2 linked regions of the Homo sapiens genome follow. The protein of the gene in region 2 interacts with the protein of the main gene of each other region in a biochemical or structural test. Each region holds a gene or a part of one and is shown on either strand. Other genes may lie near its edges. The genes, in order: IRF2 and ATG7.

Region 1 (10,515 bases), on a different chromosome or scaffold from region 2:
CTATTGTGCCTTCCTCATGGGTTGTGAGGTCTTGGGAGGTGGTAGGGAGAGGCAAAGATCAGTGCTCAGAAAGACAGGTTTTGTCATTATTCAGTCAGGACACTCTTTGGTACCCAGAGGAGTGCCACTTCTGACTGTTTACTGTAGCAGGTAAGTTTGTTATTCCTGTCTTTTCACCTGTCAGGAGTCAGTGTTGCTGTCTGTTTTGCCGCTTGGTGGTCCAGGGAAATCAGTTCACATGTCGAGAGAGAGAGAGAGAAACAGATAGAGACTGGTTAGTGAGAGTGTTGATGCTCATCTGAGAGCATTTCGATATTGGGATTTCCCTGCTTCTCTCATGGGCTTTCACTCGAGAGCTGGAAAGTTTCTAAAGTACCCACGATGTCTGGATGGAGAGAAGCCATTGTCCCTTACCAGGGCATAAAGCAACACACTCCTATGGGGGAATTTGGCCTGAGAGATAACGTAATTATATTAACTTGGTATCCAGATCATAGCCCAGAAAACAGACTGACTTTTCTCTCCTGGTCAGCCGCATTCAGGATACACCTAAAATCTGCATGGACGTGCTTATCTACTTTTTTCCCCAAGTCATGTATATTAAGTGAAATACGGTAAAATTCACCCCTTTTAAGGCACACGGTCCTATAAATGTTGACAGACGCACTCAGTGATGTAACTACCACCATAGTCAAGACAGAACATTTTCATCACCCCAACACGTTTCCTCCCTGGCCCCAGCCCTCGCACCCACAGCCGGCTGTCTTTATCACTTCCCAAAGGTTTCAAGAGTCCACTTGTCAGAAGTCTTGACATTTTTCTAGAAAACATTAATTGTCACGTCCCGTATTTGCAGATTGTCACAATCCCCTGCAGGACTCCACTCTGGCTCCAGTCAGTGAGCCTCGGCCCCATCACATGTCCATTTATTCAGGGGAGAGTCCCTGAGCGCCTCTCCGGTGGGAGTTGTGAGCATGTGTCATGACTGGACACAAAAAGTTCATACTTTGGTTGAGGAGAGATGCCATTGACCAACTCAAAGCTCCATACGGGTATATAGCGTTAACCAGCAACTTGAGGTCAGAAGTGTCACAAGGTCGCGGCCCATCGTAGTTTCGGCCGAGTGACGGGGACAGTGAGTGAGAGGCACCCAGGGGAGAGAGGCCAGTCTGTGCTGGCGGGTCAGGAAGGGGCTCCAGAAGTCAGGGGCATGGTGAATGCTGCCTGTTGCTCAACCCCCACTCCTGTGCCACTACCTCATTGAAGCCTTTGATTCCTCAAACTGGAAAAAACACCCCACTTCTCTAGCTTCCATTGTATGGCCCCCTTCTTTTTCTTTTCTTTCTTTTCAGTGCTCACGGCCTTAAACTGACTCTCTAGATGGTTAGTCGCTGGCCTATAGCCATGTATATGAACTTCTTACAAACCGGATCCTTGACTGCATCGATCTTCCGCTGCTCCTTCTAGCCCTGGGAGGCTGGGAGGTGCAAGCAGGTGTTCCATAAATCTCTGTTAGTTGAATAACCGACTAGGACGTCATGGGGAGAAGCAGTGAGAGAAAGAATTCCTGGTTGGAACAAAGGGATCTGACTAGGGGGATACTTGAGCTGCTGCCATTGTTTGTAGTCCCAGCTGGCTTGCCCTCTTTCTGTTAGGAGCAACGTGCAAAGGAGAGATGAGTTTTGAAATATTGGAAGTTAAAATGGCTTTGACTTAAGTCACATTTATCTAAGACCTTCACTGCCTTAGTATGCAAGGTATCGCTGCGCCCTCCCTCCTCAAACTCTCACACCCCATTTGGTTTCTACCTCCACCCACCAGCTGCTTCTTAGGACTTAGGATAGGGCAGGCCATTATCTTGTTTTCCTGCCATTTTATTTTACTTGGCTGGAAGAGGCAGAGGAAACTAGAGAGAGGTTGGTGTAGGTCAGCGTCAGTCTGTGTCTAGTGACCTGCATAATTGATGTCCTCACCCTCACGTAGGATAATCCAAAGGATGAAATAAATGGGCTTGGGAGTCTGCCTGCCATATATAGCCTGCCTGCCTTTTCTTTAATTTTATCCCCACCAGGAAAACCTAAACAGGATCCGGTTTCCCTTCCATTCTGTATGCTGTGGCTTTTGGACTCTTGTATCACAGCCCCAAATCCCCTTTCTGAGCCTCTTTTGTGCCTTTCCTTTCTTTATTAAAGAACCTATGAATTGCCACTGCCCTCTAAAACCTTCCCTGCGTAGAAATCAGATAATGTGCTTGTCACTCCACAGACAGCAATTAAAACAGGAACCTGTTTATAAACAAAAATACTTCAGAAAATAAAATACTTGGAGTGATTAAAACGAGCCTCTCCATGACGCCTGGCGTCTCAAGGAGACTGGAATGCGTTCTAACCTGAATACTTTGCCGATTGGTGAGAAAATGACTGCAACATAGAGCACCACATATACTCCAAGCTGTGCGAGTCTGGACAAGTCACTCTCCCTCTCTGTGCCTGAGTTTCTTCATCTATAACAGGATAACGATGCTTTCTCTGTCATCCTTATGGGTTAAAATGTTAAAATAACAGATACAGGTATGAGTAAAACGTTGATGATGGTGGCAAAGTGCTTTGAGGACCTTGGGAATTATTTCTTCACCTTTATTTATTGAAGCTAATTTTCAGGGACATTTCATCCAACTAACAGTGGTATGAGGTCAGTTTCATTCAAAATGAGGGCAGGACCTTAGGGACCTTCAAATTAAAATGGCCATGAAACATCATGACTTACCTATGAGAATGGCCAAAATAAATAAACAGTGATGACACGAAATGCTGCCGAGGCTGTGGAGAAATTTGATCACTCAGACACTGCTGGTGGGAATGTAAAATGGCACGGTCACTCCGGGAAGCAGTTTGGCAATTTTCTTGTAAAATTAAACATGAAATTACCATATGACTCAGCAATTGCATTCTTGGGCATTTATCCCAGAGAAATGGAAACTTATATTCATACAAAACCTGAACACAAACATCCATAGCAGCATTATTTGTAATAGTCAAAGGCTTGTAGCAACTCAGACATCCTTCAGAGGGGAGAATAAACACACTGGTACACCTATACCGTGGAATACTACTCGGCAATTGAAAAGGAACCGATGACTGATACACACAACAACTTGGGTGACTCTGCGGTGAATTATGCTGAGTAAAAAAAAAGCCAGCCCCAAAAGTCTACTGTATGAGTCCATTAATATAACATCCTTGAAATGAACAAATTAATGAAATGGGGAACAGATTAATAGTTGCCCAGGGGTCATGGACAAAGAGATGGATGGGGAGGTACTGAAGGAAGGTGGCTATGGTTACAAAGAGTAACGTGAGAGAGATTGGTCGTGATGGAACTGTTTGGTGTTTTGACAGTGGTGGTAGGTACATGAACCTTTATGTGTGATAAAATTGCACTTAGTCCTGGTGCAGGTACACACTCACACAAAAGAGTGCAAGTAAAACTGAGGAAATCGGAACAAGATGGGTGGATTGTTATTTATGTCAATACTCTGGTTGCGATATTGTATTCTAGCTTTGTAGCCTATAACCATTGGAAGAAGTTGAGTAAAAGGCACACAGGATCTCTCTGTATTATTTCTTACAACTGTATGTGAGTTTACAATGATCTCAAAATAAACAATATAAGAAAAATATTTGAGGCAGTTTTCAGAGCCAGGGTGGTCAGAATCCATCTTATCAGTGTTCCGGGGAGCTGATGCTACTAATGTTTGCCAGAATTGGAGATCTGACTCTATTCCATTGTGCTGATATTTCAGCCAGTTGGACATGTTGCCTGTAGAGCAGGAAGAGAGCTGGGAGCGTAAGCAGAGCGCCACCCAGCTAGATGGGGACCTTGGGCATTTATCCCAGAGAAATGGAAACTTATGTTCATACAAAACCTGAACACAAACATTCACACAGCTAGATGTGACACAATTGGGTAGATTTTCATGGCCCTTCCTCTTTAGTAAGGTTTGATAATGTCTCCCTGGATTGTAGAACCCAGAAAATAAGCACAGCGCCTTCTTTTGGAGCAAGAGCAGGGAGCAGAAATCGGTCAGGTTCAAAGTACTGTCATGTCTGGCCCTGGGGCTGGGGCTGGATGCCGCCTCTGGTCCTGTGGCCTCGGCTGTGACGGGGTTGACTGTGGAATTCTGCTGAGCTGGAAAGGACATGGCCACCGTGCGTGCCATTGGCAGGCATGCTGGAGATAGACCTGGGGAGCCAAGTGCTGGCCGGCTGCTCCCTGGGAGACATCACACCAGAGCTACAGAGCTCAGGCGTGTTCTTCAGCCCCATGGCAGGGGACAGATGGTGATGGGAGCCTGGCGACCTGGCTCTTTTGGGGAAGACTCTTTCTTGAGAAAGTGTGCTAGAATTGTGAGGTCAGCAGACTTTGCATGATGGCTGTCTTTTCTTTGAAGTTGTAGGACAGTCCCATCTGGACAGCAACATTGAGAATCAAGAGATTGTCACCAATCCGCCAGACATTTGCCAAGTTGTAGAGGTGACCACTGAGAGCGACGAGCAGCCGGTCAGCATGAGCGAGCTCTACCCTCTGCAGATCTCCCCCGTGTCTTCCTATGCAGGTAAGCGTCAGCGGGAGGCTCCGGGAGGCGTGGGAACCGGCCGCGCAGTCCTTTGGTCTAGGGTCACCCATCTCACCACCCCACGGAGCATCCCTCCTCTGTCCTAGGAGTTATTCTCCCTGGAGTTTTTCATACTTTAATTATCTTGATCAACATCTTCTTGGACACTTTTGTTCTCAGGTAGAGGACAGGATCACAGCATTTCTTTACTCAGTTGGCCATGACATTTTTTATTTATTTATTTATTTTTTTTTTTTTTGAGACAGAGTCTCGCTCTGTCTCCCAGGCTGGAGTGCAGTGGGATGATCTCGGCTCACTGTAACCTCCGCCTCCCAGGTTCAAGAGATTCTTCTGCCTCAGCCTCCTGAGTAGCTGGGATTACAGGCGCACACCACCATGCCAGCTAATTTTTGTATTTTTAGTAGAGACGGGGATTCACCATGTTGGCCAGGCTGGTCTCGAGCTCCTGACGTCAGGTGATCCGCCCACCTTGGCCTCCCAAAGTGCTGGAATTACAGGTGTGACCCACAGTGCCTGGCCTCCCATAACATTTTTATATATGGTTACAGATAAGATTTCTTTAGGGCAGTAGTTCATCAGAGTCTAATTTATTAGCCCAAGTTATTAGAAATTTGGCAGAGTGTTTTAATGGATTCTCAGTTTGAGCAGGCTGGATAGGACCTTAGAGATGATCTCTTCCTGTTCCTTCATTTCTGAAAGGGAAGGGGCTTGCGCAGGGTCGTACAGTCAGCAAGTGTTTGGGCCAGGACTTGACCTCAGCCTTCAGACCCCAAGCTCATTGCTAGATCCATTCCATCCACCAAGCGTACTTGTCCTTTCCACATATTTTCTCTTTCTTTTTATATCTAGTACAGGTTCTAATTAGGCCAGATGACTGAGCCATTTCCAATTCTCCAGGGACTTGGCTACATAATGACAGGAGTTGGCCCAGGCAGAGTCACAGGGGGAGGAACAGATCCAGTTGGTTCTTCCATTCTTCCAGAGTAAAAGGATGGCTCCTCTCGTTCGCCAACATTACTTCATCTTCTCCTCTCTTCCTGATGATCTCCATTGAATTTTGTGGAAATCAATTGTAATTAGGAAATATAAATTCTGAGTCAGTGTTACTGCTTGCAGATATTAAAAATAAAAAGCAGAGTCCCCATCCTGGGAAACTGCAGTTCAGCTCTAGCAAATAGTTCAGGGATTCTTCCCTGTGCTCTTTACACGCTGCCAAATGGGATGTCCTCCAGTAGGTGCCACCCCCAACACTGGCTCCGACCAGCGTTGGAATTAGAGTTGACTCAAAGGACTGTTGTTTGTGAATTATCAGCCACTAAGTCTAATCTCATTTTCCCTGAATGCCAACTTTCTTTTTTTTTTCACTTTTAAAAATTGTGGTAAAATACATTAACATAAAATTTACCATTTTAGCCATTTTTAGGTACACAGTTTAGTAGCATTCAGTGCATTAATGTTGTCGCAGCCATCACCAGCATCCACCTCCAGAACGTTTTTCATCTTGCGAAACTGAAACTCTGTCTGCATTAAACACTAAGTCCTCTTTTCCCTCCTCCACCCCAGCCCCTGGCAACCTCCTGCCTATTTTCTATCTCAGTGAATTTGGCTATTCTAGGTACCTCCTATGAGTGGAATCATAGTGCTTGTTGTTTTGTGACTGGCTTATTTCACTTAGCATAGGTCCTAGTGTGCATTTATGCTAGGAGCGTAAGTGGAATGTGAGAATAGACCTTGGCCACAGGAAGATTATAATCTGTCAAACAGGATAAGCTTGTCTTCGGTGCTTTATTCAGCAAATGCGTTTTGGACTCTTACACGTGCCAGTCCCTGTTTGGTCCTTGCCAGAGTGCAGTCACAAGAACTACTATGTTTTGCAAATTTATTGTGCCCTGGGAACCATGCTCAGTGCTTGGGTACAGTTGACTGTTGTTGTTGTTGTTTGTTGTTGTTGTTAATAGAAATAGGGTTCTGCCTTGCTGCCCAGGTTGGTCTAGAACTCCTGGGCTCAAGTGATCTGCTCGCCTCAGCCTCCCAAAGTGCTGGGATTACGGGCATGAGCTGCCATGCCTGGTATGATACAGTTGACTTGTTTAATTATAATTAGAGTAACCCTGTCAGCCTGGGTATCGTCATCATCCCGTTTTTAAAAGTGAGGAATCTGGCTGGGTGTGGTGGCTCACGTCTGTAATCCCTGCACTGGAAGGCTGAAGTGGGAGGATCACTTGAGCCCGGAAATTGGAGACCAGCCTGGGCAACATAGTGAGACCACACTTCTACAAAAAATAAAAAAAGTTAACCGGGTGTGGTGGCATGTGCCCGTAGTCCCAGCCACTTGGAAGGCTGAGGCAGGAGCATCCCCTTGAGCCCAGGAGTTCAAGGCTTCATTGAGCCCTGGTTGCACCATTGCACTCCAGCCTGGGTGACAGAGCGAGATCCTGTCTTAAAAAAAAAAAAAAAGAAAAAAAAATATATATATATGGATCTGCGGCTGGCGTGGGTAGAGCAGCGTGTCTGAGGGAGGAACGATTGGGAGCACAGCTAGAACCCATGAGCCGTTGATGCCAAAGGCCGGTCCTTAACGCCCGCCCTGTGTCGCTGCCCTGGACAGCGCACGGGCTCTGCCGTTCAGAACACAGCCACATCCCGTGATCTCATTTGATTTTCACAAGGACCCACCAAAGGAGGCAGAGCAGAATGTTTATGCCTAAATTTTACAGTAGAGCTAACCGAAGCGTGAAACACTCAGCCACTTTGCTTATATTTACATAGTTATGGCTAAAAACCCATGACTTTCTTCTATAGCCTGCTGCTGCAGGCATCGTTACACTCCATGTGGTTTTCTTTCTCTCTTCTTTTTTTAGGGGGTTGGAGCTTTAGAATAGACTTCTATGTTTATCTGTTGAGTAAGACTTTTCTGAGGTCTTCTTGGGGATTCTGGAAAGACCTCTTCTTGCTGTTCTGCCAGCAGTGGCATTTGCTCAAGCAAAAGATTCCGGAGAACAGCAGATCCATGCAGAGAGAAATGAACATTTCATTACTCTCTTCAGGACATTTGCATAGGTTTGAAAGGAAGGATTTCAGTGCCAGGATGGCAGTCAACAGGAGGTTTTGCTGGAGCCTGGCTTTTCAGCCTGGCCTTTGGTTCTTTCCGTTGTTTTCATTGTCTGGATTCTCCAGAACCTCGTGGAGGGAGGCTTACTGGTTGGAGGCAAAATGTTCCATCGCTGCTGATGTTCTAGAGCTCACAGTGGTGTAAAACATTTCCCTGCTACTGACTGTAGCTAATTTTAGTTCCTCCGTCAGAAATTGTATAACATGCTGTCAGGAAAGGCAGCTTTCTGCGTGTATTCACCTTTCTTGCTTTATGTTCTCCAGTAGAGTCGGCCATTTGCCTGTTTTTCATGATGGAGTTCCTTTGTTTGGGCTGTTCATCTGAATTTCAATCTCCTCTGACCACCTTTTTTTTTTTTTTTTTTTTTTTGAGACGGAGTCTCGCTCTGTCGCCCAGGCTGGAGTGCAGTGGTGCGATCTCGGCTCACTGCAAGCTCCACCTCCCGGGTTCACGCCATTCTCCTGCCTCAGCCTCCCGAGTAGCTGGGACTACAGGCACCCACAACCAAGCCCGGCTAATTTTTTTTGTATTTTTAGTAGAGACGGGGTTTCACCGTGTTAGCCAGGATGGTCTCGATCTCCTGACCTCGTGATCCACCCGCTTCGGCCTCCCAAAGTGCTGGGATTCCAGGCGTGAGCCACCGCGCCCGGCATGCTCTGACCACCTTTATTCATCTGTTTGGGAAACTGGTATTTGGAGGCTGCTGTTTGCTAGTTTTTCCCCCTACTGATCGTTGAATCATAATCCCAGTAGTATATTACAAAACCACATTCAGTTTTGCAAGTCTGTCTTCTCCTCTGTGGTCTAAATATTATGATGAGAAAGAGAAGAGATAGTACTTGCGTTGGATGTTTTAAGACAACATAAAATTCTAGTGTGATTTGTGAAACTTTCATACTAGGGAGGGACATTTCAAAGTGCCACTTTGGGAAGCTCTGGCGGAGAGACATGTCATGTTTAAAGGTGCATTACAAAGTGACCCCTTGCCTGATCTGTGGCATCAGAATTTTATTAGGTGGTTGATGGTTTAGTAGAAGAAAACCACAGTAGAATAATGGGGTGGGGGAGGATGGGTAAGAGGGGCTGGAGAGTAGACTCGAGAAGAAAACATCATCTGAAGGACTCACTGGCTATAATGAGAGAGTGGAGATCGCCTGCTGACCAGCAGCCATCAGTAAAGGCTTTGAATCCTTCGGGAAACCACACCAGGCTTGCATTTTGTTGGGCAGAGCAAAGACACAATCGCTTTGAGATTAAGAGGATTCCGATTTGAAAATAATTTACTCCTGGTGAAAGTAATTGAGAATATGATCAATAGAAAGAAATTCAAATCAAACTTGCTGAACAAGAGCCTTCCAGAAAGTGTAGCAGAATGTCAGAGTGCAAAAAGCCTTTCAGGTGAAAATGCATCCTCTCCCTTCCCGCAGTGTTCCTGCTTAGACAATATGTATATCCTCAGCGAGGCGTTAAAAACTGGACTGGATAGAGAGTGAACCTACAACCAGTGTCACCCTAGAACTGGAAGAGCTTTTGAGATCATCTAATCCAAATCCTCCCCTTCCCTCCCACCCTAGATGCTTTCAGGAAAACTGAGACCAGAAAGGTTAAGTGAATTACTCATGTGCCTGTTGGTACTGTACGAACACCTTCAGCTTCTTCATTTGTTTGGAGTTGCTGGAGAAGCAACTCCAGACTTCTTTATTCCATTGTATTCGAAGTAAGTAATAAACAAAAAGCAAAAACAAATTCAAACTAATCAAAAGGGAAAATGAAATGACAACGTATGTTGATAGTTCGATAGTAACACTGATCTGGAGGCCCAGCTGCAGTCAGCTCCCTTGTGTAAGAAGTCAGCGTGGAAGTGGCAATGGTGGTCAAACCAAGGAAACAGAGGACACGGGGCGCAGTGCATCCAACAAAGCACTTGGAGCCACCGATTCTGGGGTCACAGAGAGAACTGCTCCCCTCAGGGGGAGGTTCAGGGTTCTCTGCTCCTAAGCTAAGGTACTGAAGGCCCCTTTTTGAAACTGTCAGTGTCCTAATAGGGCGCATCTTCCTGACGACTTCAGATGCTGTGGAACTTAATCTAGACACGACGCTCTTTAACTCGCATTTGTGTCAGCTGAAAACATAAGTTCGGAGCATGTGTATCTTTTCTTATCTGCAGCTATTTCCCCGAAGCTGAAAACTGGGTACTTAAAGGAAGTTAGCATCCCGGTCACATTCATGGGCGGTGCAAGGTCTTACCCGGGAGCCTTACCCCAGGATCTGACTTCCAGCCCCTCCTGCACCTGCGACTGGGGCTGTGCTGGAATCCCAGCCCCCAAAGCATGCTTGGTTGCGTATCTTTGTTTGTATTTGGAGGGGAAAGGAAAAGAAGACAGTGATATTTATGGAGAGTCATTAGGAGTGAAGAGCATCTGAACCCGTATGAAAGGAAGAGAAAGCTTGGCTTTGGAGCACAAAGAAAGCTAAGCATAAAATGGAAAGCGGATCTTGAAATGTTGTCAGAGACCAGAACACCAGGGAAGCAGGGCTGCTGTGTGCAGTGCACAGGCCCTGGAATCAGAAGTACAGTTTTGTTTTCTCTCCTCTGTGCTGTCTCAGTTGGCAACTTTGGCAAGTTTCTCAACATCTCTGTTCCTCATTTTTCTTCTTGGGAGTGGCTGTTCCGATTCCTGCCTCCTCAGGATACTGAGCCAGCACGAGGGTTCTCTGAGGAGGGGAATTTTCTTTTTCTGTTGGTTTTCATGTGTTTCTGCGTGGA
Region 2 (9,373 bases):
GTCAACCAGGGAACAAGCAGTCACATCCACAGTCTTCAAACTCTTATCTGTCCTTCTCATTGGTTACTTCCAGGAGCTGTTTTTCTTTTATTTTGGTTTCCTTCTGCTATAATATCCTTCACCTTCACATGCAATCTGGTGTCCATCAGCTTCAGTTTTTGAGAACGGATGCACTGGATACCAGCATTATGGGGTTTGAGAAGCCTACATGGGAGGGACAGTGACAGCTGAGAAAATGTGGGAAAGAGGAGAGAGGAAGCAATAATGCCAGGAAGATGGAGGGCAGTGTGCCTCCTTCTGAGTCCTTTTGTTACCTCCACTGATCAACAGTGTTGCCCATTTCTCTGTTCATCTGAGAGACACCCACCTGGATTTGTCTAAATCACTGTGGAGCCCTATGCCAACCAACAACTAAAATCTATGATGGTTTCCTAAAAGCTGGCTGAGTTATGAAGGCTTGCTTCTAAATAATTACATCTCTGTGGTTTTCATTTCTGGTATGTTTAAAGAATCCTGAGAAACGGGAGAAGTACTTTAAAACTGGGCCAAGCAAAGGCCTGATTTCCGATTTTCAAAATGTTTGATTTTTCTTTGTTTCTTTTCTCTTTTTTTTTTTTTTTTTGAGATGGAGTTTCGCTCTTGTTGCCCAGGTTAGAGTGCAATGGCACGATCTCGGCTCACTGCAACCTCTGCCTCCCACGTTCAAGCAATTCTCCTGCCTCAGCCTCCCAAGTAGCTGGGATTATGGGCGCCCGCCACTACGCCCAGGTAATTTTTTGTATTTTTAGTAGAGATAGGGTTTCACTATATTGGCCAGGCTGGTTTCGAACTCCTGACCTCAGGTGATCCACCTGCCTCAGCCTCCCAAAGTACTGGGATTATAGGCGTGAGCCACCACACCCGGCCTGATTTTTCAAAGATAAGAATAAAGATGGGTTCTAAAGACCACTGGACAGAAGTTTTGCTCCCAGGAAAGGCCCATATGGGCCACTCTAGTCCACTTAGCACCTTTGTACAATCAGAAAATTACACCTCTGCTTCAAGATTTTACTTCCTTTAGTTAGAGAAATGTTGTAATATACTGATTAGATTAGCTCAAGACATGGTAGCCTTCTCTGCCACTGTCATTACAAAAATGCACCCATGATACCTATGATATAAATGGAACCCCCTTTGATGTGGCCTCTTGTGCAGTGCACAGCCTGCATAACTGTATGAGGCAGCCCTAAGTAATCACAAGAGGCCAATATGGTTTCTCTAAGAAAAAGTCATGACAGAGTAACTGCATTCCTACCTTGATCAGGGAAGAATCATAGACGCAGGACATACAGGTCTCAGAAATGTCTCTCACAAGGCTGCTCTAGAAATCCCGGTAGACAAGGTGAAGATACAGGAATTGGATCCTGACATAATTAGAGGGATTAAGAACTGGTAAAATAATCTTATTCAAAGGATCTTGGTTACTGAATTAATTAATGTTAATTAGAAAGGAGCTAATAGCAGTACGTCTTTGGCTTAGTCTCTGGGCCTGTCCAATTTATTTTATTTATCCACATGAATGAATATTTATCAACATTTACTAAGTATTTCATGTGCACTGAACCCTGTGCTGGGGCTAAGAGCAGGGGGAATAGGCAAATAAACATATTCAATAAAGTATTCTTATTACCATATTTTACCAATAACTTGGATAATGATATAGATTTGCTTATCAATTTCATGACAAAAGAAGAAACAGGCAATACAAGTGACTAAAATTCAGGATAAAAAAAGATTCCAACCATCTGGAATGGCAGGCCTATTTTAACAAGATTTGAAATTTCATAGAGGTAAATCTAGGGCCCTAAATCTAAGTTCAAGAAAACAACTGGACAAGGCAGATGGTCTGCTAGACTGGAAAGGGCATAGGTTCATGAGCCAGAGAGACCTGAGTTCAAATCCTGTCTCTGCTACTTTCTAGCCACACCACCTTGGACAAGTCATTCAACTTCTCCGAGTCTGTTTCCTCTTCTGTTAGATGGGGATACCACCTACTGTGCAGAATTAGTGTGAAGATTCAACTAGAAAATGCATACATCTGGCCCATAGGAGACACTCAAAAAGCAGGACTAATATCATATTGTTTACCAATAACATGCCCGGCCAACATGGCGAAATCCCGTCTCTACTAAAAATACAAAAAAAGGGCCGGGCATGGTGGCAGGCGCCTGTAATCCCAGCTACTCGGAAGGCTGAAGCTTGAGAATTGCTTGAACCCGGGAGGCGCAGGTTGCAGTCAGCTGAGATAGCACTACTGCACTCCAGCCTGGGTGACACAGCAAGACTCTGTCTCAAAAAAAAAAAAGAAAAGAAAAGAAATGAAATTGGGGCTTCCATTAGTTATTTCTTCAATAAACAGTTATGTTACATACTTGTCCCTGTGCTACATTTCAGGGTTCAATGGCAAAAAAAAAAAAAACTATGGTCCCCACCTTTAAAGAGCTAACAATTTTGAAGCCAAAACAGACAACAAAACAGAAGAGGAATCGGAGTATAGCAATTTGGAGGTAAAACAAATACAGTATAGCCTGGCGTTTGTACAGAATGTTATAGGAGGAGGGATATCTAAATTAGACTGATGAGGCAACAGTGTTTCCTATAGAAACCCTTAAGCCAAGGTGGGGTTTTTTTGTTTGTTTGCTTTTTATTTTTTGTTTTTTGAGACGGAGTCTTGAGACAGAGTCTTGCTCTGTCACCCAGGCTGGAGGGAGGTGGCTCAATTTCGGCTTCACTGCAACCTCTGCCTCCCGGGTTCAAGCGATTCTCCTGCCTTAGCCTCCTGAGTAGCTGGGATTACAGGCACCCGCCACCATGCCTGGCTAATTTTTGTATTTTTAGTAGAGACAAGGTTTCACTATGTTGGTCAGGTTGGTCTCGAACTCCTGACCTTGTGATCCACCCGCCTCGGCCTCCCAAAGTGCTGGGATTACAGGCGTGAGCCACCACACCCAGCCAAGCCAAGGTTTTAAGAATATCCTATAGAAACCCTTAACCCAAGGTTTTAAGAACATCCAAGTAGATTCTCAACAGGGGCCCTACTGGCATGCTGGATGGAACAATTCTTTTTTGTTTAGAGCTATCCCTGCACACTGCAGAATGTTGAGCATCTCTGGCTCTCTCTCAATAAATGCAGTAATGCCCTCTGGTCAATGTCACAAAACAAAGCAAAATAAAACAGCTCCACAAACTTCTAAACCCACCCCTGATGGTTGAGAAAGGGAGGGTTAGATGACAGCACTAGCCCCATGCAAGGACCCCTGGATGAGGAGGCTAGAGGTAGGGAGTGGGGACTCTCCAGGCAAAGGGAGGAAGCTGACTCAGCTCCACATCATCAGCTGCAGAAACACCCCATGGCCTCTGCATAAGCTTAGAATTTTCTTGGCCACCTCCACATACCCATCATCTAGTGAATTTCTTTGCTCACTTCAAATCACAGCTCAATCATCACTTCTGAGGGAAGCCTTCCCTGACTCCCTCAGCTCTGGATTAGGTCGATCCTCCTGTATTCTAGTCCTCAAAGAGCACCAACTACCTTACCTTCATAGCACGTATGCAGTTATCCTCCTCAGTAGAATAAAAATTCTATGAGAAAGGAACCATGTCAGCTTCTCATTTTCCCCCATTCATCATTGTTTTTCTAGCACCTGACTTAGCACCTCATAGGTGCCCAATAAATACTTGTTGATGACTGAAACAAAGAATGAATAAATAAAAATTCTATGAGAAAGGAACCGTGCCAGCTTCTCATTTTCCCCTATTCGTCATTGTTTTTCTAACACCAGTCTTCGCACCTCACAGGTGCCCAATAAATACTTGTTGATGACTGAAACAATGAAAGAACAAACCAGGATGGTATGTTTGAGAAAATACAAATGAGTTCTGTTGCGGGAAGTCACGGACCCTGAACGGAGGGACCGGCTGGAGCTGCAGCAGAGAAACATAAATTGCGAAGATTTCATTTTAATATGGACATATATCAGTTCCCAAATAATACTTTTATAATTTCTTATGCCTGTCTTTACTTCAATCTCTGAACATAAATTGTGAAGATTTCATTTTAATATGGACATTTATCAGTTCCAAAAATTAATACTTTTATAATTTCTTATGCCTGTCTTTAATCTCTTAATCCTGTTATCTTTGTAAGCTGAGAATGTAAGTCACCTCAGGACCACTATTGTGTTAACTGTACAAATTGATTGTAAAACATGTGTGTTTAAACAATATGAAATCAGTGCACCTTGAAAAAGAACAGAATAACAGTGATTTTCAGGGAACAAGGGAAGACAACCATAAGGTCTGACTGCCTACAGGGTCAGGCAGAATACAGCCATATTTTTGTTCTTGCAGAGAGCCTATAAACAGACGTGCAAGTAGGGAAGATATCACTAAATTCTTTTCCTAGCAAGAAATATTAATAATTAAGACCCTGGGAAAGGAATGCATTCCTGGTGGGGGGGGGGGGGTCTATAAAGGGCCGCTCTGGGAGTGTCTGTCTTACGCAGTTGAGATAAGGACTGAAATATGCCCTGTTCTCCTGCAGTACCCTCAAGCTTACTAGGATTGGGAAACCCCACCCTGGTAAATTTGAGGTCAGACCAGTTCTCTGCTCTCGAACCCTGTTTTCTGTTGTTTAAGATGTTTATCAAGACAATACATACACTGCTGAACATAGACCCTTATCAGGAGTTTCTGATTTTGTCCTTGTCCTGTTTCCTCAGAAGCATGTGATCTTTGTGACCCACTCCCTGTTCGCACACCCCCTCCCCTTTTGAAGTCCTTAATAAAAACCTGCTGGTTTTGCAGCTCGGGTCGGCATCACAGTCCTACCAATATGTGATGTCACCCCCAGAGGCCCAGCTGTAAAATTCCTCTCTTTGTACTCTTTCTCTTTATTTCTCAGCCAGCTGACACTTATGGAAAATAGAAAGAACATACCTTGAAATATTGGGGGCAGGTTCCCCTGATAGAGTTCTGTATGGCAGCAAGGAGAGGCACATGGGGCAGAGTAGATGGACCATGCCATAAAAGCAGGCAAAGGCCATATCATGAAGAGCCTTATGTGAAAAGCTATGCAACTGTATTTCTGCATAGATCTCTATTTTAGTAAAGGCAATCCACAGCAGTGAGGACCAGACTGCTGAGGCAGGGCAACCAGCTGGGAGGCTGTGCAGAAAGACAGGCAAAAAGGGAGGGGAGCCTGAAATGAGGGAGCAAGGGAGGAAATGGAGGAGATGTGAGTCAGGAGATAGCAACAAAGTCGAATCTATAGAACTCTGATGACTACCTGGACTTGGAAGATGGAAAGGAGGGCTAGTACCAGAGGAAGAGTCTGAGATGACTCTCAGGGTTCTGTTTTGGATGACTAAATGAAAGGAGAGGAATTGGCAAGATTCAAGAATGGAGAAAGAACGGCAGGTTCAAAGGGAAGATGAGGAGCTTAGTTTTAGACTTGTTTGAGTTTGAGGGTAGCACTCAGGAGAGATTCGGGCTATGATACAGAACAGGGGTCATGAGCATATAAACAAGTTTGAAGCTGCGGTTGAAAAGAATATAGTAGAGGGCAGAGTCTTGGCAAAAATTGGCATGTGAGGGACAAAGGGGAAGAAAGGAGCCCACAATGGAAATTGAGGGACAAATGGCCAGAGAGATAATACAAAGTAGGACTGGGTTTTCCTAAGTGAGGGGCAAGGTCAGCAATGTCAGATGTGCCAAGAAAGATAAGAAGGAAAAGTGGTCAGGTATTCTGGCAATGTCGAGGTCTGATGACTTTGGGGAGTGGTGGGACGAGAGCAGGATTTTAGCAATGACTTAGGGAAGTACAGGAAGCAACTCTAGATAACTCTTCCAAGAAAGGTGGCTGGGTAAAAGAGGTGTGACAGGGTGCAGCATAGGTTAATTGGAGGGTTTTTGTTTTTTCCAAAATGAGAGTAAACAGAGAATATTTAAATGAGAAGGGTTGATGAAACAGAAAAGAAAATGAACAAATGATGGAACCCAGTCCTTGAGGCAAAGGAGGCGATGGGATCTCAAGCACAAATAGAGGACTTAGTCTTAAAACACCATTTCTTTCACAGAATTAGAATAAAAGGCAAAAGGATAGGGTCAGCTAAAGATCAGTTGGTAAAGGATAGAAGAGGAAGCTGCGATGCCTTAATTAATGGCTGCAACTTAGTGGAGCAAAAGTCAAGGTAGGAGGTTGAGGAGAGGAATGAATATGAGGAAGACATAAAGGGAAATGGACAAGAGAGCTGCCTGAGGATATGGGGAGGGCTGAGCCACGCTGAGGGCCTATTTGGTGGCACACTAGTGTAATAGTGTCAAAAGCACAATGTGTCTATAATGGAGCTGGCAGGGCTTTAGGTTACCACAAGAAAAGTGCAGTCTTGCTCTGCATGGTTAGAGTCCTCAAGGAAAGAGGATTTCCTTTCTGTACCACACACTCAAAGAGAGGCTGACAAACCAGAGCAAGTTCAAGGATGGTAACTGGGATGAAGGTGTGAGGAAATCCCAAAAGTGATCATTCTGAAGCCGGTCTGAGATGGAGTGAATAGGCTATTCCTCAGTCTGCCAAGATCATGGTAATACCTACTGACTACCAATTAACAGAGCAGCACCTCCAGTATTTATTGTCCCTTGATTATACAATCAGGCCTTAATCGCACTGGAGAAGGGTGGGGAGATCAGGAGATAGAAAGGGGAGAGGAAGCGGTGGCTCACGCCTGTAATCTCAGCACTTTGAGAGGCTGAGGCAGGCGGATCACGAGGTCAGGAGATGGAGACCATCCTGGCTAGCACAGTGAAACCCCATCTCTACTAAAAAAAAAAAAAAAAAAAAAAAATTAGCCGGGCATGGTGGTGGGCACCTGTAGTCCCAGTTCCTGGGGAGGCTGAGGCAGGAGTATGGAGTGAACCCAGGAGGCAGAGCTTGCAGTGAGCCGAGATCGTGCCACTGCACTCCAGCCTGGGCGACAGAGTGAGACTCCATCTCAAAAAAAAAGAAAAAAAAAAAAAGAGGAGAGGAAGACATTAGCGAACGTCATTTCCATGGGTAGAAGTGGACGACAGAGGCAAACTGAATTCCAAATAAAATCAGAGGTCAGGGTTAATCTATTAGAGACACTAGTCAAAGAATTTTGTTACTGCTCAATTCCACACAGCAAATTCATTTCTGCCCTCCCGTCATCAGGATCCTGATTCTTGTCCCCTTCTTCTGTTTCATCCTATCAGTTACCAAGTCCAGCAAATTCCACCTCCTTAATCTCTCAACTCCTCCCACTCCTCTCCATCTCCACTGTCACTGCCTTCATCCAGATCTTCATCCTGTCACCTGGATCACTGCAACTATACCCAACTGGTCCCCTGCTTGTCTTTTTCTGTCCAGTGTAATCACCACATTGCTGCCTGGGTAATTTAAAACAGATGAGAGGATGTCGCATCTGTTTTAAAATCTTCAGTGTCCTGCTCTCCACCCCCGCCCCCACATTTTAGAGTCCAAACTTCTGGGCCTGGCAATATTAATGACTACTGTTTATTGAGTATTTATCATCTACCAGTGTCAAGTGAGTAACATATCACCTCGTACAGTTTTTATTTCCCCTTCTTAGAGATGAGGAAACTGAAGCTTAGAAAGAAGTGACTTGCCCAGGGTCACAAAACTAGTTCAGTGGCAATGGGAATATTGGTACGCAGCTATCTTGGATCCCAAAGTCTATGTGCGGGTAACATGCTATTGTCCACAGGGCCCTTCACGATGTGGCTAGTGCTTACCTTTCCAGTCACCTCTCATCCTACACCTCCACACTGGCACTCCAGTGAACCACAAGCAGGCCATGCATTCTCACCTCTAGCCCTTTGCTCATCTCACTTCGAACCACTCTTCACCTGTCAGATCTCGTTCGTCCTTCAGGTCTTGGCTAAAGCAGCACCTCCTCACTGAAACCTTCTCTGATGAGTCAGCCTGACTTATGCGTACCCTAAGTCCTCCTCTACCAAACCTCCGCAATAGCTTCATGCCATACCGTTGCTATCTCCTTGGCTTAAAAAAAAAGTAAACTCTTTGAGGACAGGGATGTGTATCTTACTCATTTTTGTATTCCCAGCTTGCAGCGCAGTGCCAGACACACAGCTGAAGCTCAATAAATGTTTATTCTCTATAATGAGATGCTGGCTGGGAACGAAAAACGGAACCTGTGGTTGAGTAATGGAAAGTCCAGTACTCAGCTCTTAAAGGATTTCAAAATCATGTCACATGAGGGCAGGAAGGAGTTGGCCAAGATAAATGGAAGAGGAAGGGGAGATGTTCGAAGCAGCAGAAGCAAAGGGCTATAGGTGACACACACCTGCAAGCAGCTTAACAAGACTGGAGCAGCGTTGGGGGATGGGAAAGCAGTTTAGCAACATGAGCCATTCCAAGACTGGACTTTTCTTTATTCAAGTGTTAGGTCACTTCCTCAGGGAAGCCATCCCTGACTAGCTAGCTTTTATGCTTCCCCCCAATTACTGTCCATCCCATGACCCTGTACGTTTCAGAATCGGAAACACCTACCAACCCTTACTGACAATGCCGCCACCGCCACCACCACCACTATTATTAGAAGGTGCCATGAAACAGGGTTCTTTTTCTTCTTATTTTACTGATAGATCACCAGTGCCCACAATAATGCCAGGCACATAACAGGCAAATATTTGTTTTATTCATTCATCCAACAAATATTTATTGAGCATATATAATATGCTAGGCATTGCTCTATATGCTGGGGATATAACAAAACATGACAAAATTTGCTGTCACTGTTAAGTTTACTATGAGCAAATACATTAAATATGCTTAGCCTAGAGAAGAAAAGGTGAGAAGAGGAAGACAAACTAGCAGCTTTCAATGATGTATAGGGCAATTAAATGCAGGGGTGATTCCAAGAGCCTGAAGGAGGAACAGTGAGCTAAGATTACCGAGTAGCTGCTTTCAGCTCAACCTAAGAGTCAGAACTGGGGGAGGACCAAACAGGAGCAACCAGAAGTAGAAAGCTTTCTGTCACTGAAGAAATCTGGCCAGTGGGCAGAGGTGTCAGAGAAAAAAATCTAAGTAGTCAATGAAAAAGGGAGTCTGGGATCCAGAGGTCCCAAACTGACAGCCACAGATATGACTGGTTACAGTTGAACAGGGTTTTGTAAAAACTGAGTTGCCAATGTTTTTAAACGCCAGAATTACTTGCCAATTTTTAAAAAATGGCATCAGTCGCCAGTGTTTAAAAATCAGGAAACTGCACGCACGTGCACACACACACGGTTTGGCTTGTACTTCTCCAACATCATGTACGTTAGTACTGTACTT

Evidence for each region.
Region 1: the proteins of ATG7 (region 2) and IRF2 form a complex in vitro, tested with the Homo sapiens proteins (one study listed by BioGRID).

What each region holds. Positions count from the first base shown.
Region 1 is NC_000004.12:184,393,015-184,403,529, reverse strand, and holds part of IRF2 (interferon regulatory factor 2), read left to right. Parts: intron 1-4,450; coding exon 4,451-4,615; intron 4,616-10,515. UniProt on the Homo sapiens protein: Specifically binds to the upstream regulatory region of type I IFN and IFN-inducible MHC class I genes (the interferon consensus sequence (ICS)) and represses those genes. Also acts as an activator for several genes including H4 and IL7.
Region 2 is NC_000003.12:11,273,024-11,282,396, reverse strand, and holds part of ATG7 (ubiquitin-like modifier-activating enzyme ATG7), read right to left. Parts: intron 8,184-9,373; exon of another isoform or gene 3,577-8,183; intron 1,404-3,576; 5' UTR 1,295-1,403; intron 228-1,294; exon of another isoform or gene 205-227; 5' UTR 1-204. UniProt on the Homo sapiens protein: E1-like activating enzyme involved in the 2 ubiquitin-like systems required for cytoplasm to vacuole transport (Cvt) and autophagy.